Regions from separate parts of the Homo sapiens genome. Here region 1 is linked to region 2. Evidence: fine-mapped expression QTL. A gene starts in region 2. The other region holds a variant in brackets. All regions are shown on one strand. Distances are from middle to middle.

Region 1 (15,888 bases), 49 kb before region 2:
CCTCTAACTGTGTTTTTCCTCTACTCTCACACTGCAACATTCAACATAGAAGAAGACTTCTATAGCCAAATGTGTTGCAGGGGGTTCCCTACACACCAAGTGGCAGACACCAGCTGGCTGTCCTCTAATTCAGTTCCCACACTGTCTTCCCGACGCTGTCTCCCACAGCTTGAGGGCTTAGTCCGCAAGACTGCCCCCTGTCACACCAGTCACAAGCCCAAGCCTCTGGAACTTCTGATCAACTGGCTTCAAGTTGGGGTTCCCATGACCCCCTCTTTGGGTTCGACTAATTTGCTGAAGCAGCTCACAGAACTCAGGGAACTTACTTATGTTTATAGGTTTATTATAAAGGATATTGCAGAGGATACAGGTGAAGAGATGCACAGGGTGAAGTATGGGAAAACGGGCATGGAGCTTCCATGCCCTCCCCGGGGGCATCACCCTCCAGGAGCCTCCACATGCTCAGCTACCCAGAAGCTCTCTGCACCCAGTCATCTTGGGTTTTTATGGACGCTTCAAGACATCAGCATTCCTTCTCCCAGGGTATAGGGTGGGACCCTCTCACTGGAAGGTATTTAGACCCACAATCAGAAAGGAGGGGGAACATTAGAGTCCTGCCTTGGAACAGGTAAAAAGAGGGCAGGAGGTCAGAGGCCTGCCCCTGAGGCCCAACGCACCCAACATTATAACAAAAGACTGTAACAGGGGCTTTTGGGGTTATGAGCCAGGAACCGTGGATGATATCCAATATACATCATAACACCGCAGCAAGTTTAAAATGTTACAGCTACTTTGGAAAACTCTTTAGGATTGCTTATAAAGCTAAATATACACTTACTCTATGACCAAGCTATTCTACTCCTAGGTATTTATCCAAGAGACAGAAAAACAAATATCCAAAATACTTGTATAAGAATGTTCACAGCAGATTTTATTTATAATAGTCAAAAACTGGAAACAACCCAAATGTCCATCAACAGGTGACTGGATAAATTAATTGTGGTCTATTCATACAATAGTGACCTACTATATTCCGCTGTAGTAACACACAGGTACACACAATGACATGGCTGAATCTCAAAACATTATGTTGGGCAAAAGAAGTTAGATAAAAATAAGCCACGGCTGGGCGTGGTGGCTCAAGCCTATAACCCCAGCACTTTGGGAGGCCAAGGCAGGCAGATCACTGGAGGTCAGGAGTTCAAGACCAGCCTGGCCAACATGGTGAAACCCCATCTCTACTAAAAATACAAAAAATTAGCTGGGCATAGTGGCAGACACCTGTAAGGCAGGGATCCCTTAGGATCCCTGTAAGGAGCTGAGGCAGGAGGATCCCTTGAGCCTGGGAGGCAGAATTTGCAGTGAGCTGAGATCACGCTACTGCACTCAAGCCTGGGTAACAAAGTGAGACTGTCTCAAAAAAAAAAAAAAGAAAAATAATTCACAGACCATCCTTGTAACTAAATCTTTGCACACATTTTATTTCCTTAGGATAGACTCCTAGAAGTGGAAATGCTAAGTCAAAGAGTGTGAGCACTTTTAAAGCCTTTGAAACCTATGAGAACGTTGGCTTTGAGGCTAGACAGACCTGACCTTGAATTCCTGGCTTATGGCGTGTGGCCTTGAGCCCACCACTTCCGGGTACTGTGCGTGTGCCCAGTACTCCTCCTTGTCCCTCTATTTGGCTACTTATCACATTCTACTTTATTATCACTATTAATCCATGGGTCTTGCATATTATAAACCCCTAGTTATAAACCCCTGAGGGCAAGGCCTATGCATATTCATCCCCGCATCCTGCCCAGCACCCAGCACAGAGCTCAGCGTCCAGGCCAGGGGCAGTTGGTGCTACAGGAAGAGTAACGGCCAGGAAGGAAGGCATCCAGGTTCCATTCCCAACCTGCCCACTACACACGGTCATAGAAAAGCCTCTCATGACCTGGCCCCATTACCTGGGCAAACTCATCACCTCTCACTCTGTTCTTCAGCAGTTCTGAACTTGTGCTTCTCAAGAACTAGTAGATCCCAGAACACACCTTACTTTTTTACATTTGCATGCCCTCACCCACTTCTCAAGACTGGTAGCCCATATTGTGCCTTTGTGGAAATTAGGAAAAGGTGCCACATCCCCCTCGTGAGGCTAGATTCCAGACCCCACTCATCCCTTGACTGGCACCATACTGCCCTGACCAACCTGCATACTATTTCAACATAGCCTGGAGCAAACACGCTGGTCCACCCAGCAAACCCCTCCTCATCCATCAAGCCACAGCTCAGCTGCTACCGCCTCCGTGAAGTCATCTTCAGATACCCTCACAGGTTTCGCTGGTTTCTCTGCTAAGCTTCCACTGCTTTTTAAACAGCCTCCATTAAAACAATTATCTTTTTCGAATCGTGGCTTTTGGCCAGGTGCGTGGCTCATGCTTGTGATCCCAGCACTTTGGGAGGTTGGGACGGGCAGATCACTTGAGCCCAGGAGTTCGAGACCAGCCTGGGCAACATGGCAGAACGCCATCTCTACCAAAAATACAAAAAATTAGCCAGGCGTGGTGGTGCACTTGGTCCCAGCTACTCAGAAGGCTGAAGTGGGAGGATCGCTTGAGCCCAAGAGGCAGAGGATGCAGTGAGCCAAGATCTTGCCACTGCTCTCCAGCCTTGGTGACAGAATGAGACCCCCATCTCAAAAAAAAAAAAAAAAAAGGAATTGTGGTTTCCCCTACATATCTCCTTACCTCATGAGATTATCCTCAATGTATTTTCATCTTTTATTTCTTTTCCTTTTTTTTTTTTTTTTTTTTGAGACAGTCTCACTCTGTTGCCCAGGCTGGAGTGCAGTGGCGCAATCTCGGCTCACTGCAACCTCCGTCTCCCGGGTTCAAGGGATTCTCCTGCCTCAGTCTCCTGAGTAGCTGGGATTACAGGCATGCACCACCACGCCCGGCTAATGTTTGTATTTTTAGTAGAGACGGGGTTTCACCGTGTTGGTCAGGCTGGTCTCCAACTCCTGACCTTGTGATCCGCCTGCCTCGGCCTCCCAAAGTGCTGGGATTACAGGCGTGGGCCACTGCGCCCGGCCCTCTTTTATTTCTTATACAAAGCCCAGTTCCTAACACATAGGAAGTGATTGATAAACTTGTTGAAAGAATGAGGGACAGTTTTCCTCTCTAGCTTTCATGTTGCTTGTCTGAGAATAAAGGAATCAGAACAAGATGCCTGAAGTTCCTGCCAACTCTAAAATACTCTTTTCCAGTATGCATTAAGTAAATATTAGTTAAGTAAATAAGCAATACCCACCAAAAGAAAATCCCTTTAAAGGTGTGTCTTGAAAGAACATGAATCAATTTGTTTGAGTTTTCTTCTAGAAGCAGTTTGGTATGAGTTTTTGGAAGCTCTTAAATGTTTTGCCTTGCCTCTGGAAACTTTCAGAGACCATCTGAGATCAGCCAAAAATAGAGTTTAAGAAGAATTGCTTTAGGAAATCCTTCCAAAGAGTGTCTTGTCTTTCATCTCATTCAGATTCCTCAAATTAGGCAATTTGGAGACAATCTCTGTCTTGAAATTATGTAAATTACCCATCTCTGTTATTTGTCTTTCTCGGATATTTTCAAAAAAGAAACGTCTGTTTCTTGACACAAGGCAACTCTTTACGCATCTTTGAGGCTAACGCTAACGTTACTTCTCTGATGAGAAGAAATTTTACCCTGTGTCCTTTCTTCCTCTCCAGAGAGGCTGTCCTTAAGTGGACATTGTCAACCTCCTCAGAGAGTAGCAATTCTGTTTGAGGGCTTCAAGCCCCTGAGAAACTAATAGGACCAGAGATCTAGAAGTGGAACTTTTACAAACCATATGGGCTCATGCATCCCCAAAGTTCACAAACTCCTTAAAATTCTATTCACAATATCGTATGCATGCGTGCACTATTTTTTTTGTTGTTGTTGTTTGTTTGTTTGTTTGTTTGAGATGGAGTCTTGCTCTGTCGCCCAGGCTGGAGTGCAGTGGTGTGATCTCTGCTCACCGCAACCTCTGCCTCCTGGGTTCAAGCGATTCTCCTGCCTCAGCCTCCCCAGTATCTGGGATTACAGGTGCTTGCCACCATGCCCGGCTTATTTTTGTACTTTTAGTAGAGATGGGTTTTTGCCATGTTGGCCAGGCTGGTCTCGAACTCATGGCCTCAAGTGATCCGCCTGCCTCAGCCTCCCAAAGTGCTGGGATTACAGGTGTGAGCCACCACACCCAGCCTGCATGTGCATTTTCCTTCCCTCCTTCCTTCCTTCCTTCCTTCTTTCTTTCTTTCTTTCTTTCTTTTTTTTGAGATGGAGTCTTACTCTGTCACCCAGGCTGGAGTGCGGTGGCGCGATCTTGACTCACTGCAACCTCTGCCTCCCAGGTTCAAGCGATTCTCCTGTCTCAGCCTCCCGAGTAGCTGGAATCACAGGCGCCTGCCACTACACCTGGCTAATTTTTTTTTTTTTTTTTTTTTTTTTTTTTTTTTTTGAGACGGAGTCTCGCTCTGTCGCTCAGGCTGGAGTGCAGTGGCGTGATCTTGGCTCACTGCAAACTCCGCCTCCCGGGTTCACACCATTCTCCTGCCTCAGCCTCCCGAGTAGCTGGGACTATAGGCGCCCGCCACCACGCCCAGCTAATTTTTAATAGAGACAAGATTTCACCATGTTGGCCAGACTGGTCTTGAACTCCTGACCTCAGGTAATCCACTCACCTTGGCCTCCCAAAGTGCTGGGAATACAGGCGTGAGCCACCGCACCCAGCCACAGGAGCTTTTATGTTCAGATCATAACCAGGCGTGGTGGCTCACTCATGTAACCCTAGAACTTTGGGAGGCTGAAGTGGGAAGATTGCTTGAGGCCAGGGGAGTTGGAACCAGCATGGGCAACATAGCAAGACTCTGTCCCTATTTTAATTTTTTAATTTTATTTATTTATTTATTTATTTATTTTGAGACAGATTCTTGCTCTGTTGCCCATGCTGGAGTGCAATGCCATGATCTCAGCTCACTGCAACCTCTGCCTCCCGGGTTTAAGCGATTCTCCTGCCTCAGCCTGCCAAGTAGCTGGGATTACAGGCACGTGCCAACGCATCCAGCTAATTTTTGTATTTTTAGTAGAGACAGGTTTCACCATGTTGACCAGGATGGTCTCGATCTCCTGACCTCGTGATCCGCATGCCTCGGCCTCCCAAAGTGCTGGGATTACAGGTGTGAGCCACCGCACCCGGCCCCTATTTTAATTTTAAAAAGAAAACAAGATCAGGTCATACTTTGGTGCATTCTTTTTTTCTTTCTTTCTTTTTTTTTTTATTTGAGATGGAGTCTCGCTCTATCACCCAAGCTGGAGTGCAGTGCTGCAATCTCGGCTCACTGCAACCTCTGCCTTCCGGGTTCAAGCGATTCTCCTGCCTCAGCCTCCCGAGTAGCTGGGACTATAGGCACTTGCCACCATGCCCAGCTAATTTTTGTATTTTTAGTAAAGATGGGGTTTCACCATGTTGGCTAGGATGGTCTCAATCTCTTGACCTCGTGATCCGCCAGCCTCAGCCTCCCAAAGTATTGGGATTACAGGCGTGAGCCACCACGCCCAGCCTTTGGTATATTCTTTTAGGTTATGTTAAAGATAGATTCTTCAAGTCACAGATAGGAGTACTTGGGATCACCCCTCTGCCCCCACCAGTGGCCCTCCCTTAGGGGGTTCCTCAAATTCTTTGAACTTGCTGAAACCCAGCCTGCTGTGCTGACACAAGAGAAGCCCTGGGAGGATACCCGACGCCTGGCACCTCTGCCCTTATGTCCCTTTTTTTTCTGTTAGAATCCCATTTTGTTTTCTTTTTATAGATGTAGGGAGTACAGTGCAGTTTTGTTACATGGATATATTGAGTAGTGGTGGAGTCTGGGCTTTTAGTATAACCACGATCCGAATAGTGTACATTGTACCCATTGGGAAATTTCTCATCCCTCACCCACCTCCCACCCTCCCACCTTTCCAAATCTCCAATGTCTACTATTGCACTCTCTGTGTCCATGTGCACACATTATTTAGCTCCCACTTATAAATGAGAACATGCAGTATTTGACTCTGTCTCTGAATTATTTCACTTAAGGTAATGGCCTCTAAGGGTTCCATCCACATTGCTGCAAAAGATGTAATTTCATTCTTTTTAATGGCTGAGTAGTATTCCATGGTATAAATATGCCACATTTTCTTTATACAATCATCCATTGGTGGGCCCCTAGGTTGATTCCATATCCCTGCTCTTGTAAACAGTGCTGCGATAAACGTATCTTCAAAATAACAGCCTTGAAGCCCTAATTGGGCTCCTGAGAGGGCCACGTGAGACAGTGTGAAGAGCGAAATCACTATTCTGCCACAAGAGGGCACCCAAAGCCCAGACAGATGGGACGACGCGCTTCCTGCCTCCATTGGAATCAAGCGCATGACTGGATAGCAGAGGCTCCTTGGGCAGGGAGCCACAGCTTGAAGGTCCCAGTTATGCAACTGGCCCCAAGGCCCTTCTACCCCTTCCCCAGGGGACTTCACCAGCTCCTTTTAGGACAGAGTTTGTGTATGGTTCTTGCTGGCTTCAGTCCCTCCCGTAGAGGTGACCCTGAGTAGCTGGGATTACAGGTGCCAGCATATGCACCTGTAATCCCTCCTCCCTGGGGAAAATCTCTGCCCTGGATGGGTAAGATCCTGACCCTGCGTGAACGTGGCATGCGCTTCTGTTCTCCACTCCCTGGAGTTCCTCCTGAGGCCGTGCAGGATCCTGTCCAGTGCTCACAGGCATGAGCATGACTTCAGGGTTGTGAGCAGAGCCCTGCAGAGGTATGCATATGGCTATGGAGTGGTGACCTACTCGGACAGAAAGAATAAGGAAAGGATCCAGTAGCCAGGCCAAAAGGAAGAGGCACCAAGAAGGGCTGCAGCTTGAGGGTGGAGATTCCAGACTTCCAGATACTCTAGTGGGGGTACGATTTGGACCCAGGAGGCAGGTTGCAAATCTAAACCCATCAGAAGCATATGGACTCTTCTTTTGATTAGTTGTCAATGCGAAAAAATTTTTTTAATTTTTAAAAAGGGTATAGACTTAGACAAACTCAGAACTATTAAATTTATAATGTAGTTTGAAACATTTAAGGGAACATTGTACTAAACTGAGAACTATATAGATGTACGCAGGCCCAAGTCTGGCTTCCTAGCCTCAAATCTGGCAAATAAATAAGGTTAGCCTTCCTGAGACGGTAATCACAGATCACGGTCATACACTGCCCACTTGAGTAAAACCGTTCCCCTTGGGGACGAGTGTTCTTTTAACCCCAAGAAGGTTTGGAATCAATCTTTATGATGGCTTTTACCCTCTCAACTTAGCTAAGACGAAACCATATTTCTTGGAAATTAATCCCTGTATGGTTCTGGGTGAGGGTTGGCCACAAGAGAAATGTAAGATTTGAGAGGTAGGAAAACAGAATAGGAGCGGCCGTCGTGCTCTGAGGCCAGCATGGGGTGACAGTCATCTGCTGGCTCACCTTGTCTGCACGGATGGCAGCCAGACTGGCAGCTCTTCCAGCTCCCGTCAGATCGCCTCCTTCAGCTTCTCTAATTCTTGGCCACACAAGTGCAACTCCGTGGCAAGGAGTGCTAGGTCCTTCTGCAGACACCCATACCATCGGGGTGGGTGGTGGTGAGGCACAGACGCAGGCTCCGGATGGCCTTTGCCCTGCCCCCACTTCACATCCAGTGCTTCTCCCAACTGACCCATAGTGACCTCAGGTCCACCACAGATACGGAGGCCTCCAAAGACTCCTTCCCCAGCTGCCATGATTGATTAAGGTCTAATCTCTAAAATAAGTTCCTTATTCCATAACACTCATAGTGGTTTTGACTCTCTGGTCAAACCTTAACTGATAAAAATCAAAAGTGATGAAGCAAATCAAACTCATGCTAAGTTTCAAACAGGTTTTAACCACTGCATGCATTTGGTACTTAAAGTTTTTGTAATGCTTAAAAGAATCTGACATATATTAATACTTAAATAGGAAATGCATGAAACTACAGAAAAAAAAATTAAAAAAATTTTAAACAATTTGACATAGAAGTATTATAGATTAGCCTCATTATTATATTAATATTTAAAATGTATAATTGCCGGGCATGGTGGCTCATGCCTGTAATCCTAGCACTTTGGAAGACTGAGGCGGGCAGATCGCTTTGAGCCCAGGAGTTCAAGACCAGCCTGGACAACCTGGTGAAACCCTGTCCCTAGTAAAAATGCAAAAACTAGCTGGGCTTCATGGCGTGCGCCTGTAGTTCCAGCTACTCGGGAGGCTGAGGTGGGAGGACTGCTTGAGGCGAGGAGTTCGAGGCTACAGTGAGCCGTGATCACACCACTACACTCTAGCCTGGGCAACAGAGCCAGACCCTGTCTCACAAAACAAAA[G/C]AAACAAACAAACCACACAAACTTGCAACATCCTGCTTCTTGCAGCTCTCCCCATCCGGCCCACCCCATTCCTTTGGCGTGAAAATATGATGGGGTCTCCTCAGCCCTAGAAGCACCCACACCGTTCAACCTAAAGCTCCCACTGACTAGCTGAGCTCTCATAAAGGTGAGATTTGTCGCATACGCCTCCCATACACCTCTTCCTAGTAGATTTCTTCACTCTTTCCCTTCCATTCTGAGCACGGCCCCACTTAAGGAACTCTCAGCTCTCATGTTGCCCTATCCCAGTCAAGAAGGAAGTTGCTGGTGATCAAGTCATACTCCAGTGAACACTGACTGGCACCTCTTCTGCATCAAGTCCTAGCAGGGCATTCACCCGAGTTACCAAACATGGCTGCTCACACCCGCCCTCCGAGGCCAGCATCTGCATCCCCATGTGACAGTGGAAACAAACCCACGGAGCCTGAGCAACTGGGCAGCCAGCAAGTGACTGAGCAGAGAGACGGCCTTGGACGCAGGCCAAGCAGCACAGATTTACTCGAATCATCCTCCGCTCCTTCAGATTTTCACCAGCTGATTGATCCTTGGACTTCCCCCCCAGGCTTCTCTGACATCACCAGCCACCAGGACCCTGCCTATGCCTGTGGCCTGCAACATTCCTCTATGCACATCAAAGTAGGGAGCATCAGGCCGGGTGCGGTGGCTCACACCTGTAATCCTAGCACAATGAAAGACCGAGGTGGGCAGATAACTTGAGACCAGGAGTTCAAGACCAGCCTGGCCAACACGGCGAAACCCCATCTCTACTAAAAATACAAAACAATTAAGCAGGGATGATGGTGTGTGCCTGGGGTCCCAGCTACTTGGGAGGCTGAGGCATGAGAATTGTTTGAACCCGAACCCAAGGCTGAGGCAGAAGTTGCAGTGAGCCAAGATCGCGCCACTGCACTCCAGCCTGGGTGAGAGAACTCCAGCCTGGGTGACAGAGGGAGGCTCCATCTCCCAAAAAACAAAACAAAACAAACAAACAAAAAAAACAAGTAGACAGCATCAATTCTGGCCAACTTATGGGTAAAAGAGAAGGCTGCCACAGCCCTTGCCCTTTGGGAGTGCCTGTCCCTTCAGTAGCTGCCCCAAAAATCCTGCAGAAGAGAAGGGTCAGAGGAAGCACCTGTAATAAAGGGTGAGGCCCCACCAACCCACTCTCTTCCTCTCCTCTCCTAGCCGAGGGAGCCATCAGAGGCAAAGGGAGTGTGGGAAAGATTAGTCAGACATGTTTCCCTTTGTGTCACAGAGTCAAACTCTCCATCCGTGACTTCAGAAAAGTCACAAGAGAGCCCCAGCAACGGCCCACAGGGTGTCATAGCAACACGCCTACACCTCAAGGTGCCACCTTCCAACTCTGGAGAAAACAACTGCCTTCTTCAAATGTCAACTGCTACATGGGCAAAGAGCAACTTGAAAATGAAATTCGGGGCTGGGCGCAGTGGCTCACACCTGTAATCATTTTGAGAGTCCAAGGCGGGTGGATCACTTGAGCCCAGGAGTTCCAGACCAGCCTGGGCAACATGGCAAAACCACATGTCTTCAAAAAAATACAAAAAGTAGACAGGCATGATGGCATGCACCTGTAGTCCCAGCTACTCGGGAGGCTGAAGTGGGAGGATCACTTGAACCCGGGAAGTGCAGGCTGCAGTGAGCCGAGGTTGCACCACTGCACTCCCCACTCAGTCTGGGTGACAGAGCGAGACACTGTCTAAAAAAAAAAAAAGAAGAAGAAAAAAAGAAAGAAAGAAAATGAAATTGAAATTAGGGGCCGGGCACAGTGGCTCATGCTTGTAATCCTAGCACTTTGGGAGGCCGAGGCAGGCGGGATCACCTGAGGTCAGGAGTTTGAGACCAGCCTAACCATGATGGTAAAACCCAGTCTCTACTAAAAACACAAAATTAGCTGGGCATGTGTGGCGCATGCCTGTAATCCCAGCTATTCAGGAGGCTGAGGCAGGAGAATCACTTGAACCCAGGAGGTGGAGATTGCAATGAGCCGAGACTGCGCCATTGCACTCCAGCCTGGGCAACAAGAGCGAAACTCCATCTCAAAAAAAAAAAAAAATGAAATTAGGAAAAACAACTCAATTTACAATAGCATCAAAAAGAATAAATACTTAGGCATACATTGGCCAGGTGCGGTGGCTCACATCTGTAATTCCCACATTTTGGGAGGCCAAGGCAGGCGGATCACCTGAGGTCAAGAGTTCGAGACCAGACTGGCCGACATGATAAAACCCTGTCTCTACTAAAAATACAAAAAATTAGCCAGGCGTGGTGGCAGGCACCTATAATCCCAGCTACTCGGGAGGCTGAGGCTGCAGAATCGCTTGAACCTGGGAAGCAGAGGCTGCAGTGAGCTGAGATTGGGCCGCTGCACTCCAGCCTGGACAACAGAGTGAGACTCTGTCTCGAGAAAAAAAAAAAAAAACTTGGTATACATTTAACAAAGAAAGTGCAAGACTCATACACTGAAAACTAGAAAACATTGTTGAAAGACATTAAAGAAATCCTAAATAAATGGAAAGACATCTGTGTTCATGGACTGAAGGTAACAATATTTCCCAATTTCATCTACAGACTCTATGCAATCCCCATCGAAATTCTAACTGCCTTCTTTTTTGCATAAATGGACAAGCTGATCTTAAAATTCACATGCAAATGCAAGGGACACAGAGTAGCCAAAATAATTTTGAAAAAGAAGAACGAAGTTGAAGTCCCAATTTCGAAACTTACTATAAAGCTACAGTAATCAAAACCATGGTATTGACCTAAAGACAGACATACAGATCAATGGAATACAATTTAGAGTCCAGAAATCAACCCATACATCTATTGTCAATTAATTTCAGCAAGGGTGCCAAGACCATTCTGTGTGAAAAGAATAGTCTTTTCAAGAAGCAGTGCTAGGACAACTGCATATCCACAAGTAAAAGAATGAAGTTGGACCCCTACCTAAAACCAGATAAAAAATTTAACTCAAAATAAATCAAAGAACTAAATTTAAGAGTTAAAACTATAAAACTCTTAGAGGGAAATATAAGTGAAAATCTGTATGAGTTTGGATTCGGCAACAGTTTCTCAAATATGATGCCAAAAGCACAGGCAACAAAAGAAACAGTAGATAAACTGGACTTCATCAAAATGTGAAACTTTTTTTTTTTTTTTTGAGACGGAGTCTCGCTCTGTCTCCCAGGCTGGAGTGCAGTGGCGTGATCTCTGCTCACTGCAAGCTCCGCCTCCTGGGTTCACGCCATTCTCCTGCCTCAGCCTCCCGAGTAGCTGGGACTACAGGCGCCCGCCACCACGCCCGGCTAATTTTTTGTATTTTTAAGAGACGGGGTTTCAGCATATTGGCCAGGCTGGTCTCCATCTCCTGACTTCGTGATCCGCCCGCCTTGGCCTCCCAAAGTGCTGGGATTACAGGCATGAGCCACCATGCCCGGCCCAAAATGTGAAATTTTTATGCATCAAAGGGCACTATTAAGAAGGTAAAAAGACAACCCACAGTATGGGATAAATTTTTTTTTTTTTTTTTCTGAGACGGAGTCTCGCTCTATCGCCCAGGCTGGAGTTCAGTTGTGCGATCTCGGCTCACTGCAAACTCTGCCTCCCGGGTTCCACACCATGCTCCTGCCTCAGCCTCCCGAGTAGCTGGGACTACAGGCGCCCGCCACAACGCCTGGCTAAATTTTTTTTTTTTTTTTTTTTAATTTTTAGTAGAGACGGGGTTTCACTGTGTTAGCCAGGATGGTCTCGATCTCCTGACCTCGTGATCTGCCCGCCTCGGCCTCCCAAAGTGCTGGAATTACAGGTGTGAGCCCCCGCCCCGGGCCAGAGAAAATATTTTCAAATCACTTATCTAGTAAGGTCTAGAATTCATAATATCAAAAAGAAAAAAAAAAAAACTCTTGCAACTCAGCAACAAAAGACACAAATAATTTAATTTAAACACGGGCAAAGGACTTGAACAGACATTTCTCCAAAGAAAATATACAAATGGCGATGAGCACATAAGAAGATTCTCAACATCATTAGTCTTAGTGAAATACAAATCAAAACCACAATAAGATACCACTTCACACCAACTAGGGTAGTTATAACTTTTTCAAAAATAGAAATGTATCTGTGATATTTGCACATCTTTGTGAATATAGTAAAAGCACTGAATTGCACATTTTTAAATGATGAAAATGATTCATTTTATCTCAGTAAAAGTCTAGCCACTGAATTGTACATTTTTAAATTATTAAAATGATTCATTTCATCTCAGTAAAAGTCAACAGGCACCAGGGATCCCTTCAGTTTGGGCTGGAGGTCAGTGCAGTTTGGGGGGTCATCAAATGCTGAAGCAGAAGGAGTTTAGGGGTCACGCAAGTCCCAGCTGCCGTGTGACAAGTGAGGTAAAGGACACACCCTCTGTGGAGGTCTGAAGTCCCCTGACATTAGTAAGGGAGGGACAGCAGAGATCTCCCCTGTCACCACGAGGCTTTTTTCAGCCCCCAGGGCAGATGGCAAGTGTATACCATGTTTGGCACCCCTGTGATTGGCAGAGGCAATGCAGGTTGGGTCTGGAGGACAAGATTGCTGTGGGGGAGAGCCAAGGGTGGACTTCAGAACACTGGTGGTGACATAAGGGTAAAAAGGCCTTGGTCACAAAAGAGGAAACACAAACAGCGCGATCATGGAAAGACGCTCAGCCTCCCCGGGAATGGGAAGAGTGCACACTGAAACAATGAGACAGCACTTTCCTCCAATGAGATGCTCAAAAACAGTTTGCTAATACGAAAGCCTGGCAGGACGTGAGGAAATATGTGCTATCATTCCACTGCTGGTGGGAGTGTGAATTGGTAGGGCCACTCTGGAGGGCAACTCGCCAGCATCTGTTAAAGTGAAAAATGTGCACACCCTGTGACTCAGCGATTCCGATGCCCCGCACTTATTCTAGAGAGACACTCCCACATGCACAGCGAAGTATGAGATGTTTATGCAACACCACTTACGATAGTGCATTGTTGGGAACAACCTAAGTATTCGGGAACCAGGAGAATGGCTAAAAAGCCTCTGCACATCCATTCTCTATTTAACGAAACGAGTAGTTCTAGAAGTATAAAATGAAATGATCTCCAAGACATATAACTGGATTAAAAGCACGAAAAGCAAATCGTAGGATACATACTGTATATCATTTATGGAAAGAACAAAACAAACACAAAAATACAACTGTGCTGGGGCCGATGGACAATTGTGCCTGGCAGGCTGAGTCATGAGGCCAGTTAACAAGCCTTTCTCTATCTGCAAAAAGAAGTACTTTAGAAAAGCAATATAAGAAGAACATGGACCAGGGGCAGTGGTTCATGCCTGTAATCTCAGCACTTTGAGAGGCTGGGGTGGAAGGATTTCTTGAGGCCAGGAATTTGAGACCAGCCTGAGAAACATAAAGAGACCCAGTCTCTACATAAAATTAAAAATCAGTCAGGCGTGGTAGTGTGCACCTCTGGTCCTAGATACTCTGGAGGCTGAGGTAGAAAGATCTCTTGAGCCCAGGAATTCGAGGCTACAGTGAGCCATGATTGTGCCACTGCACTCCAGCCTGGGTGAGTAAGCAAGGCTGTCTCTAAAACACAAAAAGAAGAAGAACATGGAACTGCCAGACTTGGGCTATTTCATTTCCCAGAGATAATTTTTTACCGAGTGGAGAGAAAATGGGTGGTTTGTTCCTTAGGCTCTATTTCTTGCTCTGTGCTAGAATTATCGCAGCTTTGTGTAAGATTTCCTTCAGCAAATATAGGTAGCCTGCGATGCCCCAAATAAGAAAGGAAAAGACAAAGTCAGATGTTACTGCTGTCGGTCATCTCAGGTATGAAAAAGAGAGGCAGGCCCCTTGCCAGGGAGAAGGAACAACCAGATGCTGTCCATGAGGCACTCTCCTACCTCTCCTAAGACAGGGGTCGCCCTTGCTCTGAAAAATTCAAGCAGAGAATCCTCAGGAGGAGTGGGGCCAAGAAATCAGAGTAAGAAATATTTGATTATTGCTTAATAACATTTTAAGTAGAAAATAAAATAATTTTTTAAAACAGGCTGGCCGGGCGTGGTGGCTCACGCCTGTAATCCCAGCACTTTGGGAGGCTGAGGCAGGTGGATCACGAGGTCAGGAGATCGAGACCATCCTGGCCAACATAGCAAAACCCCATCTCTACTAAAAATACAAAAATTAGCTGGGCATGGTGGCATGCACCTGTAATTCCAGCTACTCGGGAGGTTGATGCAGGAGAATCGCTTGAACCTGGGAGGCGGAGGTTGCGGTGAGGCAAGATCATGCTATTGCACTCCAACCTGGTGACAGAGCGAGACTCTGTCTCAAAACAAAAACAAAAACAAACAAACAAACAAACAGGCCGGGCATAGTGGCTTACGCCTATAATCCCAGCACTTCAGGAGGCCGAGATGGGCGGATCACCTGAGGTCAGGAGTTCAAGACCAGCCTGACCAACATGGTGAAACCCTATGTCTACTAAAATATAAAAATTAGCCAGATGTGGTGGGGGGCGCCTATAATCTCAGCTACTCGGGAGGCTGAGATGGGAGAATTGCTTGAACCCAGGAGGTGAAGGTTGCAGTGAGCCGAGATCATGCCATTGCACTCCAGCCTGGACAACAAGAGCGAGACTCCACCTCAAAAAATAAGAAGGAAAGAAAATAATTTTTAAAAACATAAACATATGCCTACCACAGTGGCTCATGCCTGTAATCTCAGCACTGTGGGAGGCTGAGACAGCTGGATCAATTGAGGTCAGGAGTTCAAGACCAGCCTGGCCAACATGGTGAAACCCCATCTCTACTAAAAATACAAAAATTAGCCGGGTGTGCACACCTGTGGTCCCAGCTGCTTGGGTGGCTGAGGCAGGAGAATCACTTGAACCCAGGAGGTGGAGACTGCAGTGAGCTGAGAATGTGCCACTGCACTCCAGCCTTGGCAACAGAGACTCTGTCAAAAAACAAAAACAAAAACAAAAAACAAAAAACACCCACAACAACACACATAACTTTTTTGTCTAGGAAAGTTCTGGAAGAATACTCAATAATCTGAAAACAGTGCCTACACTAAGGAGGTAGGGAGAGGACCAGGGATTGGGGGAGGAGATTGATCAAAGGGAACCTGAGTCTTCTCTATAATTTTCCATTTTTTTTCATTTTCACCTCCAATTTTTAAAATATAATTTGTACTTTTTATTGTGAACTAAGATATGTAAAATAGTACATAAAAATAACACATTGAAAACCCACGTTCAGATCAGAAGATTAGTAGAACCTTCGAAGCGCCCTGATCACACCTTCCCTCCTCACCGGGGGAAGCAGCTCTGGCTTGTGTCTATCACTTCCTCACTTTCCTTT
Region 2 (15,793 bases):
CAACAACATTTGGATGGGGTTCAGGGACATCCAGGATGGCATCAAGACATCTCATCTGGGGCTATCCTTTGACTCAACTCAAACAAGTCCTCTGCCATGATGGCTACAGGGACATATGGCCTAGCCTTGTCCTAAATGGCATTTCCCCGCTGATATGGTTTGGCTGTGTCCCCACCCAAATCTCAACTTCAATTGTATCACCCAGAATTCCCACATGTTGTGGGAGGGACTCAGGGGAGGTAACTGAATCATGGGGCCCATCTTTCCGGTGCTATTCTGGTGATAGTGACGAAGTCTCATGAGATCTGATGGGTTTATCAGTGGTTTCTGCTTTTGCTTCTTCCACATTTTCTCTTGCTGCTGCCATGTAAGAAGTGCCTTTCACCTGCCGCCATGATTCTGAGGCCTTCCCAGCCATGTGGAACTGTAAGTCCAATTAAACCTCTTTTTCTTCCCAGTCTTGGGTATGTCTTTATCAGCAGCATGAAAACAGACTAATACAGTAAATTGGTACCAGTAGAGTGGGGTGTTGCTGAAAAGATACCCAAAAATGTGGAAGCGACTTTGGAACTGGGTTAACAGGGAGAGGATGGAACAGTTTGGAGGGCTCAGAAGAAGACAGGAAAATGCGGGAAAGTTTGGAACCTCCTAGAGACTTGTTGAATGGCTTTGACAAAAATGCTGTTAGTGATATGAACAATAAGGTCCAGGCTGAGGTGGTCTCAGATGGAGATGAGGAACTTGTTGGGAACTGAAGCAAAGGTGACTCTTGTTATGTTTTGGCAAAAAGACTGGCAGCATTTTGCCCCTGCCCTAGAAATTTGTGGAACTTTGAACTTGAGAGAGATAATTTAGGGTATCTGGCAGAAGAAAAGACGCAGTACTAAAGAAAAAAACCATTTTTTTGAGAAGAAATTCAAGGCAGCTGCAGAAATTTGCATAAGTAGCAAGGAACCTAGTGTTAGCCCCTAAGACCATGGGGAAAATGTCTCCAGGCCATGTCAGAAGCCTTCATAGCAGCCCCTCCCATCACAGGCCTGGAGGCCCAGGAGGAAAAAGTTATTTTGTGGGCCAGGCCCAGGGTCCCCATGCTGTGTGCAGCCTAGGGACTTAGTGCCCTGTGTCCCAGCCGCTCCCACTGTGGCTGAGAGGGGCCAATGCAGGGCTCGGGCCGTGGCTTCAGAGGGTGGAAGCCCCAAGCCTTGGCAGCTTCCACATGGTGTTGAGCCTGCAGATGCACAGAAGGCAAGAACTGAGGTTCGGGAACCTCCGTCTAGACTTCAGAAGATGTATGGAAACGCCTGGATGTCCAGGCAAAAGTTTGCTGCAAGGGCAGGGCCCTCATGGAGAACCTCTGCTAGTGTAGTACAGAAGGGACATGTGGGGTTGGAGCCCCCACACAGAGTCCCCACTGGAACACTGCCTAGTGGAGCTATGAGAAAAAGGTCACCATTCTCCAGACCCCAGAATGGTAGATCCACTGGTAGCTTGCACCGTGCGCCTGGAAAAGCCACAGACACTCAATGCCAGTCCGTGAAGGGAGCCAGGAGGGAGGCTGTACACTGTAATGTCTGTCAGCTCACCCCTTTTTATATTCAAGTTATTGGTTATGGTTATTGGTTTATATGCCCAGTTATTGGTTATGCTTCACACAAGATGAGGAAATCAGGGCTGCCATAAGGGCAGCTTGGAAAATCACCAAAGGCAAAGTCTATGTAGGTGGAGTGAGTCAGGACTGTTTGTTTGCTTTGTTTTTGGCAGAGAAAATGGGGGTTTCACTTAGATAGAATCTGGGGCCCAAAGCAATTACATTAGTTATGGAAACTGTTCCAAGAGCATAGACAGGAAGCAAAAATGCTAGAAATTGTCCTCAATGTGCATGCATTATAGACATTCTGTCCCTTCCTTTTCTGGATTTGACAGTCTCAGATGACTCCCTTGGTTACTTACATCCCAAAGAGAGATCTTGGTTTACTGTACTATACACACAGAGAATGTTCTCTCATTCTGTACCACTCAAAGTTAGTGTGTGGTCTTCAAGACAAACTCCTCTCCATGTCCCAAAACATGGAGGCTAAACTCACCTCCTAAAGAATTCCCAGAAGTATAACCTAAGTCATGAGATGTTCTCGGCCAAGGAAGCACCCACAGGCAGGGGGGAGATCTCTCAAATTTGATGGAGAATAGAAATTACAGTAAGAACTCCTCAAACAGAAGCAGAATCTCACCAAACATACTTCACAGGAGCAGTCCAAGAGTAAATGCAACAAAAATGAAACCACAAAGTCACCTAAAAGGAAATTATTTGACTAATTACAATAGAACTAATACCCAGAAGCTCATTCTCCTTGATTAAGTGAATTTCTTTTAGTCTAAAAAGATAGAGAATAACTCCTCAGAGAGGCTATGGTAGCAGATTACACCTGACTCATTCCCCATTTGAAGAATCACTTTTCCATTTCCCTCTAAGGTGCAAAGGAGGTAAAGCAAAGATAGACACAAAGTCATGGGAGCCACAAGACTCTTGTCCTGCCACTGAGCTAGCTAAGCAATCTAGCTCTCGACTTAAGGCAGAAAATTCAATGAGTAGGTAGCAGCCAGTGTTGGAAGCAGTCCAGGATGGTAGCACCAATGACAAGATTAAGGTCAGAGACCTCGTGATGCCCCGCTAGCCACCACGATTTTTCTGTTGCCTTCTGTTCATCCCACGTAGATACTATCTGGAAGCCCCCTCCCCAAAATGAAAACAACTGGAATTCTACGGCTTGCCCAAAATGCATAGAACACTCATATCTGGTTAAAACCATAGAAATCAAAAAGAAAAAGTGAAATGGCTATGAAGTATTTGCAAGGCCAATTTCACTTACTACTTGTTGGGAGTTGGAAACACTCAACAGTAAAATATCTAGGGATAATTACAACCCTTATGTAACACAAGTAAATCTTTCCCTTTTTTGTCACTTAGAGAAGCAACATAAATACATCTAGGACCAGGCCAGGGTAGTAATCAGAAAGAAAAATCTGTATTAGACATATTGAGGTCTTGACAGAGAAGTACTTCGTTTGTTTAGCCGTAGTTTTCCCTCAAGATCATGCGAAGGGGGTGATGTTGAAGACTGCTGGAGACTAAACTGTGTGTGTTGGAGGAAAGGGGGAAAGCTCAGCTCTCCCTATTTCTCCTCCAACTATTTGGTAAGACTCGGTGATAGAAAAACATCTCCTATACGAATGGCCTTGGTATGAACAGCCGCTTGGGATGACAGGCCACTATCCCACTACCCCTTGAGTCTTTCTGAGCTGCTCACCTGGTGCCAGAGAACTGGCAGATAAGTTTCTGCAGCTTTGCTCACTGCCATGAGGGGGGCTAGACATCACACTTTGGGTGAGGGGTAAACAAATCCAGAGATTGTAGGGCAACATAAGTTACCAACTGGCAGTTGCACCCATGACTGTCTTTCCTGAGGCGCTGAGTAGTGATTTAGCCAGATGACAGAAATACCTTTCGAGTCCCCTGCCCAGTTGTCTCCATCCACCACCCCCAGCCCCCGCCCTCTCCGAGTCTCCACTATACCAAAACCAGAATGAGGCGCCACTCAGACGAGAGGAGAGGGTGCAATGATTGTGGGACCCCTGCGCCCCTGCCCCGCCCGTGGGGTGCTAGCTGTGGCTGGTGCGAGAATGGGGTGCTGGCCCCCCTCCCTGGGGGTGGCCCGGTCCGGAAGCGGCGCGCGGTGGTAGTTCCCCGCGTTGCTGCAGCTGCTGCATTGCGCCATTTTCCGTCCCGCAGAATCGGGAGCTTGGGGCGAGAGTTGTCAAGGAGGTGCCGAGCCCCCACACCAGAGTCAACTCACATTTTTCTGACAGAGAGAGTGAGGGTCTGTTCCTCTCCGGAGGCTGCGGCGAGACACCCGGTGAGGGACGCTGCGGCTGAAGTGGACGGAACTGCCAAGCTCCGCCTCGCGCCGACTACCCCGCGGTCTAGCTGCGCTGGAACTTACTGCAGCTGCCGCGCCGGCCTCCGCCTTTATTAGTGCTGACCACGCCTCCCGGATAACGGTGACAACCCCGCGGCCCAATCCATGCCCAGGACGGTCGCCCAGCGCTACAGGCCTAGCCCGCCCCGCCCCTGCCAATTGCCAGTCACAACTCTCCTCTCATCCGACTCCGGAAAGGAGCGGTTGCTGTGAGGATCCTTCAGTGATCAATGCGACCATAGTTTGCGCTCCAGTCTGGCGGAGGGACGGGGCGGGGTGGAGATGAGGTCTGTCCCTTCGGAGGGCGCTTCAGCAGTTTGTTAGGCATTTGTGGTGCCTCCCAACCAATCGCTAGGCAGTTACTGAAGACCGTGCCCGCCCCTGCCCCACCCCGCGCCGGGACTCGCGCATTCAGCTGGAGGCGGCGGCTTCCTGGTGCGCGCCCAGCCCTGGTGCCCTGCTCTGGCCCTCGCTCCGCACCACCGCCCCGCCTCTAACTAACGCTCTGAGAGGGTGCAGGAGCCTCGAGACACAGCCACAAGCTCCTGGTGCCAGATACCGGATGCGGGGTTCCGTCCCACCAAAGCAAGCACGAAGCTTTCGTTCATTCGTTTCTTTCAACATAGCCTTCCTAAATTGAACTCCCTCCCAAACCTGCTCCAGTCGAGGTTACCACATCGACTCAGTTGCCCAGACCAGAAACGTGGAAACCATCCTAGATTTCCTCCCCTTCACCTTTACCTCTCCCCCAGTAATCTGCCAAATCGAGTTGATTTTTCCTTCTTGGCATTCCAGTGATTATCTCCCCTCTGCTCACTATTATCCCTTTCCTGGACTCCATCAGTTGGAAAATTCACCATTATTTTATGTCCCGCTAAGAAAAAAGGTTACAAGGCCGGGCGCAGTGGCTCACACCTGTAATCCCAGCACTTTGGGAGGCCGAGTCAGGCAGATTACCTGAGATCAGGAGTTCGAGACCAGCCTGGCCAACATGGCGAAACCTCTGTCTCTACTAAAAATACAAAACAGCCAGGCATGGTGGCGGGCGCCTGTAATCCCAGCTACTCGTGAGGCTGAGATAAGAGAATCGCTTGAAGCCGGGAGCCGACGGTTGCAGTGAGCCGAGATCACGCCACTGCACTCCAGCCTGGGCAACAGAGCAAGACCCTGTTTCAAAAAAAAAAAGAAAAAAGGTTGCAAATTATCTGTGACAAATGCTTTCCTTACCACTTAGCATTTTTGTTTTACATGTATTGAAAATATGGGTTTATATACATACCGATTTCTATATTTCACTCTTGTGCATGCATAAAAAGGGAAATAGAAAACAATAACATGGTAACTATCCCTAAAACTTCACAGAGACTGATTGTTAATGATTCACTTTTTTGACTCAGTCTTGGATGTCCACTAATTTCCACGCAATGTAGTCCTCTGTGCATTTCATAAGGGCTTTGGTGATGCAGCATTTCCTAAGAGTGTTCCTCTCCAGGCTCTAGAGTTTTCTTCCAAGCCTCAGACACCCATTTGGCAAGCTTTGATGCTCATGAGCAGGTATGACAAATATAGTTTGACTGCTGTCTGACTAATAGCTAAAGTGAAACATCCCAATTAGAAGATATTGAAATGCAAAAAAACAAACAAACAAGCACACACAAAAAACCCAAGTGCCTCCTAAGATCAATGATACATCATTCTGCTTCCAGTCTTGCCATCCTTTACATCTATTCTCTAAAAAGTCCACCAAAGTTATCTATCCAAATGTCACAAGTCTTCTTAAGGAAACAATTGCACTTGGAAACATAATGCATTCATCATATGTGTTTATCCCATTCTCCTCCTGAAACCACATCAAAATGGCAAGTTAGGGGGAAAAATGACAATTTGGGAAAATTTGCAAAAAATTATAAGCCCCCAAAGACAAAAAGAATGGGGCCGGGCGTGGTGGCTCACTCCCGTAGTCCCAGCTATTTGGGGGGCTGAGGCGGAAGGACAGCTTGAGCCCAGATGTTCCGGTTGCAGTGAGCCGAGATCACGCCACTGCACTCCCACCTGGGTGACAAAATGAGACCCTATCTCCAAAAGAAAAGAAAAAGGGCCAGGCGCAGTAACTCACACCTGTAATCCCAGCAATGTGGGAGGCCAAGGAGGGCGGATCACTTGAAGCCAGGAGTTCAAGACCAACCTGGCTAACGCAGCAAAATCCCGTCTCTACTAAAAATACAAAAATTAGCTGGGCATGGACGCCTGTAGTCCCAGCTACTCGGGAGACTGAGGCAGGAGGATCACTTGAACCCGGGAGGCGGAGGCTGCAGTAAGCCGAGATCTTGCCACTGCACTCCAACCTGGGCAACAGAATGAGACTGTCTCAAAAAAAAAAAAAAAAAGAAAGAAAGAAAGAAAAAGAAAAGAAAAAAGAATGGGAGGAAATATTTCTGGCAGCATGAATGCCTATTTATTCCCACCAACTTTCCCCTGAAAAAAAACTTAAAATCATTGAATGGTGACTCACGCCTATAATCCCAGCATTTTGGGAGGCCAAAGCAGGAGGATCACTTGAGCCCAGGAGTTCAAGACTAGCCTGGACAACATGGTGAAATCCTGTCTCTACAAGAAATAGATACAAAAAAATATAGCTGGGTATTGTGGCACACACCTGTAGTTCCAACTACTTGGGAGGCTGAGGTGGGAGGATTACCTGAGCCTGAGGAGGTCAAGAAAGCAGTGAGCCATGATCACACCATTGCACTCCAACCTGGGCAACAGAGTGAGACCCTGTCTCAAAAAAACGGGGTTGAGGGGGTGGCATTTTTTAAACTTTTTTTTTTTTTTTTTGAGACGGAGTCTCCCTCTGTCGCCCACGCTGGAGTGCAGTGGCGCTATCTCGGTTCACTGCAAGCCCCACCTCCTGGGTTCACGCCATTCTCCTGCCTCAGCCTCCTGAGTAGCTGGGACTACAGGCACCCGCCACCACGCCCGGCTAATTTTTTGTATTTTTAGTAGAGACAGGGTTTCACAGTGTTAGCCAGGATGGTCTCGATCTCCTGACCTCATGATCCACCCGCCTCGGCTTCCCAAAGTGCTGGGATTACAGGCGTGAGCCACCGCGCCCGGCCTTAAACTTTTTATTTTAAAGTAATTATAGATTCATATAAGGTGGCCAAAAAAAAAAAATACAATACAGGGAGGTTCCCCTAAACCCCTTTACCCAGTTCCCCCAACAGTAACATCTTGTATAAATACAGTTTAAAATTATTAAAATATTAAAACCAGGAAATTATCATTAGCAAAATCCAGAGTTTATTCAAATTTCACCGATTTTCCAAACTGGCATGTACCACCAAACACTTCTTTTTGTGTTCGTGTGTGTTTGAGTGGTTTTATGCAATTGTATCATGTGTAGATTTGTGTAACCACAACCACAGTTAGGATACAGCATTTTCACATTACTGCAAGGCTCCCATGTGCTACCCCTTTATATTCCAACCCACCGCCATCCCTAAACCTTAGCAACACTAATTTGTTCTCCATCTCTGTAACTTTATTTCAAGAGCCTTATGTAAATGTAGTCATGCTTTTTTCTATATCACGTAACCTTTCAAGATTGGCTTTTTTCATTCATCCAAGTTATTGTGTGTATCATTACTTTTTCAACCATCCAAGTTATTGTGTGTATCATTAGTTTTCACCACTGATTAATATTCCGTGGTACATTTAACCATTTACCTGCTGAAGGACATTTGGAGTGATTTCAGCACTGGGCTATTACAAATAAAGTTGCTGTGAACTTTCATACAGGTTTTGTGTGAACATAAATTCTCATTTCTCTGGGATAAATGCCTGAGTGCAATGCTTGGGCAGTAAGGTAATTGCATCTCTAGTTTTATAAGAAACTGCCTTTGCCTGTGTTGCCCAGGCTGGTCTTAAACTCCTGAGCTCAAGCAATTCTCCCACTTCAGCTTCCCAAGTAGCTAGGACTATAGGCATCATGCCCAGCTGTATTTTTCTTATTTTAACCATTCTAATATGTGTTCAGTGCTATCATTGTGGTTTTAATTCTTATTTCACTGATGGCTAATGATATCAAATATCTTTTAAAGTGTTTGCCTTGTATATATTATCCTATTTGATGAAATGTTGGTTCATGTCTTTTGGCCATTTTCTTTTTTTTTTTATTGATCATTCTTGGGTGTTTCTCGCAGAGGGGAATTTGGCAGGGTCATAGGACAATAGTGGAGGGAAGGTCAGCAGATAAACAAGTGAACAAAGGTCTCTGGTTTTCCTAGGCAGAGGACCCTGCGGCCTTCCGCAGTGTTTGTGTCCCTGGGTACTTGAGATTAGGAAGTGGTGATGACTCTTAAGGAGCATGCTGCCTTCAAGCATCTGTTTAACAAAGCACATCTTGCACCGCCCTTAATCCATTTAACCCTGAGTGGACACAGCACAGGCCGCAGAGAGCACAGGGCTGGGGGCAAGGTCACAGCTCAACAGCATCCCAAGGCAGAAGAACCCCTCCCAGTACAGAACAAAATGAAGTCTCCCAAGTCTACTTCTTTCTACACAGACACAGCAACAATCTGATTTCTCTATCTTTTCCCCACCTTTCCCCCTTTTCTATTCCACAAAACCGCCATCGTCATAATGGCCCGTTCTCAATGAGTTGTTGGGTACACCTCCCAGACGGGGTGGTGGCCGGGTAGAGGGGCTCCTCACTTCCCAGAAGGGGTGGCCGGGCAGAGGCGACCCCCACCTCCCTCCCGGACGGGGCGGCTGGCCGGGCGGGGGCTGACCCCCCACCTCCCTCCCGGACGGGGTGGCTGCCAGGCAGAGACGCTCCTCACCTCCTAGACGGGGTCACGGGCGGGCAGAGGCGCTCCCCACATCTCAGACGATGGGCGGCCGGGCAGAGACGCTCCTCACTTCCTAGACGGGATGGCGGCCGGGAAGAGGTGCTCCTCACTTCCCAGACTGGGCAGCCGGGCAGAGGGGCTCCTCACATCCCAGATGATGGGCGGCCAGGCGGAGACGCTCCTCACTTCTCAGACAGGGTGGCTGCCGGGCGGAGGGGCTCCTCACTTCTCAGATGGGGCAGCTGCCGGGCGGAGGGGCTCCTCACTTCTCAGACGGGGCAGCCAGGCAGAGACGCTCCTCACCTCCTAGACGGGGTCACGGCCAGGCAGAGGCGCTCCCCAAATCTCAGACGATGGGCGGCCGGGCAGAGACGCTCCTCACTTCCTAGACGGGATGGCGGCCGGGAAGAGGTGCTCCTCACTTCCCAGACTGGGCAGCCGGGCAGAGGGGCTCCTCACATCCCAGACGATGGGCGGCCAGGCGGAGACGCTCCTCACTTCCCAGACGGGGTGGCGGCTGGGCAGAGGCTGCAATCTCGGCACTTTGGGAGGCCAAGGCAGGCGGCTGGGAGGTGGAGGTTGTAGCTAGCCGAGATCATGCCACTGCACTCCAGCCTGGGCAACATTGAGCACTGAGTGAACAAGACTTGGTCTGCAATCCCGGCACCTCGCGAGGCCTTCTGAGTAGCTGGTACTACGGGCGCCTGCCACCATGCCTGGCTAATTTTTGTATTTTTAGTAGAGACGGGGTTTCACCATATTGGCCAGGCTGATCTCGAACTCCTGACCTCAGATGATCTGCCAGCCTCAGCCTCCCAAAGTGCGGGATTACAGGCGCGAGTCTTGTATTTCTTTTAAAATCAATCTCACACACACCCTTTTTTCTCCCTCTCCCTCACATATCCTGTTTTCTCTTTTTAGACATCGGACTATTAATTAGATATTGGACTATTTGGCTTAATTTTCTAATTATCTTTCTTATTTCCTGTCTCCATCTCTGCTGGTTCTTGTTCTTGGTGCCTTGTTCCTTATTTGTTTGGAATTTTTGACCACAATTTATTTTTCTTGGAACTGTATCTGTGGAAATTCCCCGAGGCCTAGATTAAAGATGAGTTCATCCAGAAAGGATCTGCATTGCTTCTGCTGGGTTCTTGGTGGTACTGTCAATCCAAAACCACTTTAAATTCTTGCCATTTTCTTTTTAGGATCAACAAAGAGTTCAGGCAGAAACACCACAGCCTGTGGTTATACATTCTCTGCAAATACTTAAAAGAAAAAAATAAAAGAACTCCAGCAGGCACCTGGGTTCCAGACAAACAACATTCCACGGAGTGCTCTGGGGCAGTTTGGGTTCTAGTATATTCGTAATTCATTCTTAGATGAGGATATAGTCCTTTGGGGTTCTGACTTTATGGTAAGGACTTTCTATTAGATTTCCAACCTTGGGTAAGCCCTGGGCTTTATTTCCTGTGCCACAGTGGTAGCCTGTGAGGCTGCTACGCTCATATTAAACTTTATAGCAAATACCCTCAGAGCAAAATAGTCTTTGGGACTCAGCAACTTCCCTGGTTACTGGCTTTCACTTAGTTTTTCGTGTTTAAATAGTCTTTACTCTCAGGCCAACTCATAAATAGATTTTATCTATAGAAGAACAAAGAAGAATAAAATAGGAGGAATAACTATCTCATGCTTACTACTATATAGTTGCAGTAATCAAGACAGTGTGGTATTGGTGGGAGGACAGACACATAGATCGATGGCACCGATGAGAGAATGCAGAAATAGACCCCTACAAATATGCGCATCTGATTTTTTTTTTTTTTTTTTTGAGACAGAGTCTTGCTCTGTCGCCAGGCTGGAGTGCAGTCATGCAATCTCGGCTCACTGCAACCTCTGCCTCCCAGGTTCAAGCGATTCTCCTGCCTCAGCCGACCAAGTAGCTGGGACTACAGGCGTGCGCCACCACGCCCAGCTAATTTTTTGTATTTTTAGTAGAGACGGGGTTTCACCGTGTTGGCCAGGATAGTCTGGATCTCTTGACCTCGTGATTCGACTGCCTTGGCCTCCCAAAGTGCTGGGATTACAGGCGTGAACCACCATGCCTGGCCTTCTGTATTTTTTAAGATTCCTATCTGGAGAGCCCCCAGCTCTGCGGCGGCTTCACCCGCGAGTCCCAAGGCAAGCGAGCGGCTGGGTCGCCCCCACCGGCCCCATGGCAGCCCCCGGGGCCCCAGCTGAGTACGGCTACATCCGGACCATCTTGGGCCAGCAGATCCTGGGACAACTGGACAGCTCCAGCCTGGCGCTGCCCTCTGAGGCCAAGCTGAAGCTGGCTGGGAGCAGCGGCCGCGGCAGCCAGTCAAGAGCCTGCGGATCCAGGAGCAGGTGCAGCAGATCCTCGCCCGGAAGGGCCGCAGCTCCGTGGGCAACGGAAATCTTCACCGAACCAGCAGTGTTCCTGAGTATGTCTACAACCTACACTTGGTTGAAAATGATTTTGTTGGAGGCCGTTCCCCTGTTCCTAAAACCTATTACATGCTAAAGGCTGGCACAACTGCCACTTATGAAGGTCGCTGGGGAAGAGGAACAGCACAGTACAGCTCCCAGAAGTCCGTGGAAGAAAGGTATTTGAGGCATCCTCTGAGGAGACTGGAGATTTCTCCTGACAGCAGCCCGGAGAGGGCTCACTACACGCACAGCGATTACCAGTACAGCCAGAGAAGCCAGGCTGGGCACACCCTGCACCACCAAGAAAGCAGGCGGGCCGCCTTCCTGGTGCCACCGAGATATGATCGTTCTGAGATCGCGGGGGTCCGCCGTACTGGCACCACAAGCAGGCAGCACCACTTTGACACCACAGGCAGTACCAGCGTGGCTCTGTTAGTGACACCGTTTTTGACAGCATCCCTGCCAACCCGGCCCTGCTCACGTACCCCAGGCCAGGGACCAGCCGCAGCATGGGCAACCTCTTGGAGAAAGAGAACTACCTGAGGGCAGGGCTCACCGTCGGCCAGGTCAGGCCGCTGGTGCCCCTGCGGCCCCTCACTCAGAACAGGGCTTCCAGGTCCTCCTGGCACCGGAGCTCCTTCCACAGCACCCGCACACCGAGGAAAGCTGGGCCCAGTGTTGCCGTGGATTCCAGCGGGAGGAGAGCGCACTTGACCGTCGGCCAGGCAGCGGCAGGGGGAAGTGGGAATCTTCTCACCCAGAGAAGCACTGACTCCCAGCTGGGGAATGCAGACATGGAGATGACTCTGGAGCGAGCAGGGAGTATGCTCGATGCAGACCAGATGCCGCCGTCCAGGATTTCTGCCGCAGCCACTTTCATACAGCACGAGTGCTTCCAGAAATCTGAAGCTGGGAAGAGGGTTAACCAGTTTTGTGGCATCCCCAAGCTTCTGCAGCTCCTAAAAGTTCAGAATGAAGATGTTCAGCGAGCTGTGTGGGGGGCCTTGAGAAACTTACTATTTGAAGACAATGACAACAAATTGGAGGTGGCTGAACTAAATGGGGTAACTCGGCTGCTCCAGGTGCTGAAGCAAACCAGAGTCTTGGAGACTAAAAAACAACTAACAGGTTTGCTGTGGAATTTGTCATCTAATGACAAACTCAAGAATCTCATGATAACAGAAGCATTGCTTATGCTGACCGAGAATATAATCATCTCCTTTTCTGGATGGCCTGAAGGAGACTACCCAAAAGCGAATGGTTTGCTCGATTTTGACACAGTCTACAACCCACTGGATGTCTAAGAAACATGAGTGCTGCTGGCCCTGATAGGAGAAAAGCAATGAGAAGATGTGACCGACTCATTGACTCACTGGTCCATTATGTCAGAGGAACCATTGCGGATTACCAGCCAGATGACAAGGCCACGGAGAATTGTGTGCACATTCTTCATAACCTCTCCTACCAGCTGGAGGTAGAGCTCCCAGAGAAATATTCCCAGAATATCTATATTCAAAACCCAAATGTCCAGACTAACAACAAAAGTATTGGATGTTTTGGCAGTCGAAGCAGGAAACTAAAAGAGCAATACTAGGACATGCCGATGCCAGAGGAAAAGAGCAACCCCAAGGGCGTGGAGTGGCTGTGACACTCCATTGTGATAAGGATGTATCTGTCCTTGATCGCCAAGAGTGTCCCAAACTACACACAGGAAGCCTCCTTAGGCGCTCTCCAGAACCTCACAGCCGGAAGTGGACCAATGCCGACATCAGTGGCTCAGACAGTCGTCCAGAAGGAAAATGGCCTGCAGCACACCCGAAAGATGGTGCATGTCAGTGACCCAAGTGTGAAAAAGACAGCCAACTTGCTGCTGAGGAATCTGTCCCAGAATCTTTCTCTGCAGAATAAAATTGCCAAAGAAACTCTCCCCAGTTTGGTCTCCATCATTCCTGATACAGTCCCGAGTACTGACCTTCTCATTGAAACTACAGCCTCTGCCTGTTACATGTTGAACAACGTAATCCAAAACAGTTACCAGAATGCACAGCGCCTTCCGAATACCGGGGGCATCCAGAAAATTATGACCATCAGTGCAGGCGATGCCTATGCCTCCAACAAAGCAAGTAAAGCTGCTTCCATCCTCCTGTATTCTCTGTAGGCACACACGGAACTCCATCATGCCTACAAGAAGGCTCAGTTTAAGAAGACAGATTTTGTCAACAGCTGGACTGTCAAAGCCTACCACTCCCTTAAAGACTGAGGAAAATGACGAAGTATTCTCAGCTGCAAAAAAATCCCACAGGAAAACACCTATTTTTCTACTACCCAGCCCAAGAAACCTCAAAAGCATGCCTCGTTTCTATCATTTTCTATTTCCATGGTCCCCCGAATCCAGAAAACAAGTACAACATAATCTTATGAGTCTTCCAGAAGACTTTTGCAAGCTTGCCACCAGTAGATACTGGTCACAGGCTCTACAAATAGTGGTCTTTGTTATTAGGGCTTATGGTGCATGGCCTCCTGGAACCAAAATGTGAATTCATGTGGAATGGACTTTGATCCAATAAATAAGGAAAGAAGTTGTTGCATTACTGGGATTTTAAAAGCTTGATTTACATTTATATTCCTTTTCTAGTTCCCATGTTTTGTCACTCATGTGCACATTGCTTCACCATTGGGCCATGAGTATATTGTTCTGTAGTGTTGAAACAGAATGGAAATGACAAGAAATATCTGCAGTTATCCAGGAGAAAGTATAATGGCAAAATTATTTGTTTCTTTGTTTACTTTGTGCTCGTTTTTATCTCCTTAGGTTTTTTTCCTCTGATTTTTAAATAAACTTAAGAAATTTAGATTACAGAGTATGCATGACTGTAAGAAAAAGAAATTGAGAGGAAGTGATCATAGCAAATTAAAGAAACCTTTTTCTCCCAAAACTTAAAGTAAAATAAATAAAAATAAAAATAAATCTTTTCCCCAGAGAAAGGCAACTGTGATTATAAAGTTTAACCTTCCCCCAAACACTGAATGAATGAGATTTTTGCTCCGGAAATACTTTACCTATAACAACACCATTAAATCCAAATCTCTTCTAAACAATGGCATTCCGTGTAATGCCTTTCCTGGACATTTTTTTTTTTTTTTTTTTTTAGACGGAGCTCAGGCTGGAGTGCAGTGGTGCAATCTTGGCTCACTGCAACCTCCGCCTCCCTGGTTCAAGTGATTCTCCTGCCTCAGCCTCCTGAGTAGCTGGGATTACAGGCGTGCACCACCACGCCTGGCTAATTTTTTTGTATTTTTAGTAGAGACAGGGTTTCACCATGTTGGTCAGGCTGGTCTTGAACTCCTGACCTCATGATCCGCCCGGCTCAGCCTCCCAAAGTGCTGGGATTATAGGTGTGAGCCACCGCACCGGGCCTTCTGTATTTTTTAGGCCACTGCCCTGGACTAGTGGAAGAATGGACTCTAGTCTTTATCTGCAAGAGGAACTAAGGCCTTCTATCAGACTGCCCGGCCAGCCTGGGGCACTGAAAATACAGCTCATTTTAATGAGTTACATTATCAACCAGCTTTGCCCAGCATTTAAGAAATATCACAGGGCCACTAAATCTCATATGATCTTCTTCAAGCCATTATTTTAATTCAAGAAAACTCTAGAGAAAAAAGTGAAGAAGTCATGTTGAAGAAGATATAAGAATGTGTCAAGACCATACAGAAATGATATGAGAAATACTGGTGTTTTAAAAGGTGACATCATCCAGTGAAATGAATCTATATTAAATGTTATTTTAACTGCATTATGATTAAAACCATTCATATAGAGTTAGTCTTCACAACTACTATTCTGTTATATTTTGTTTTTTTTTTTTTAAATCTGACAACGTTTGTCATAAGTAAGATAAGGAAAAAAACTCTTCAACTCCTTTTGGCCAGAAAAGTGTAATAGAAAATAAATGTTGAATATGTACTTAAGTCTTTATTATATTTGAAACTTAAATTTTTTTTCAGTTTTAAAAGCTGAATGAAGATAGCTTAGGTAACTAACCTAGTTCAAAATGAAATTTAGATACCAATTTTTAAAATACTGGAGAGAATTTATATGTCTTTTTCCAGAGTTCTGATAATAAGCATTTGGAGTGCATTCATTCCTCCAGATAATAAATGTATGTTCAAGAACTTTTTGTGTTTTTTAAGACATTAATAGAGTCTTCAATAATATTAAATACAAAAGGAGACAAAAAAAAAAAAGATTCCTATCTGGACTGGGCACGGTGGCTCACGCTTGTAATCCCAGCACTTTGGAAGTCCGAGGTGGGCAGATCACGAGGTCAGGAGTTGGAGACCAGCCTGACCAACATGGTGAAACCCTGTCTCTACTAAAATACAAAAAATTAATCGGGCGTGGTGGCACGCACCTGTAGTCCCAGCTACTCGGGAGGCTGAGGCAGGGGAATCACTTGAACCCGGGAGGCGGAGGTTGCAGTGAGCCTAGATCATGTCATTGCACTCCAGCCTGGGGGA

The links.
Region 1: its variant is fine-mapped to the expression of VAMP1 in whole blood (TOPMed, PIP above 0.99).

Annotation. Positions count from the first base shown.
Region 1 is chr12:6,417,338-6,433,225 of GRCh38, forward strand. No RefSeq gene overlaps it. Among named protein-coding and RNA genes, the nearest start is that of CD27, 20 kb to the right of the region's middle. RefSeq lists enhancers at 6,130-6,179, 9,491-9,600, 9,641-9,880. The variant G/C (reference allele first, on the strand shown) is at 8,446.
Region 2 is chr12:6,466,679-6,482,471 of GRCh38, forward strand. It overlaps VAMP1 (vesicle associated membrane protein 1), which reads right to left and starts at 3,999. Exons shown (of 5, transcript NM_014231.5): 1 at 3,852-3,999. The coding sequence starts at 3,853. It also overlaps a transcript of TAPBPL not described here and the pseudogene PKP2P1. RefSeq lists silencers at 3,481-3,530, 4,031-4,080, 4,291-4,550.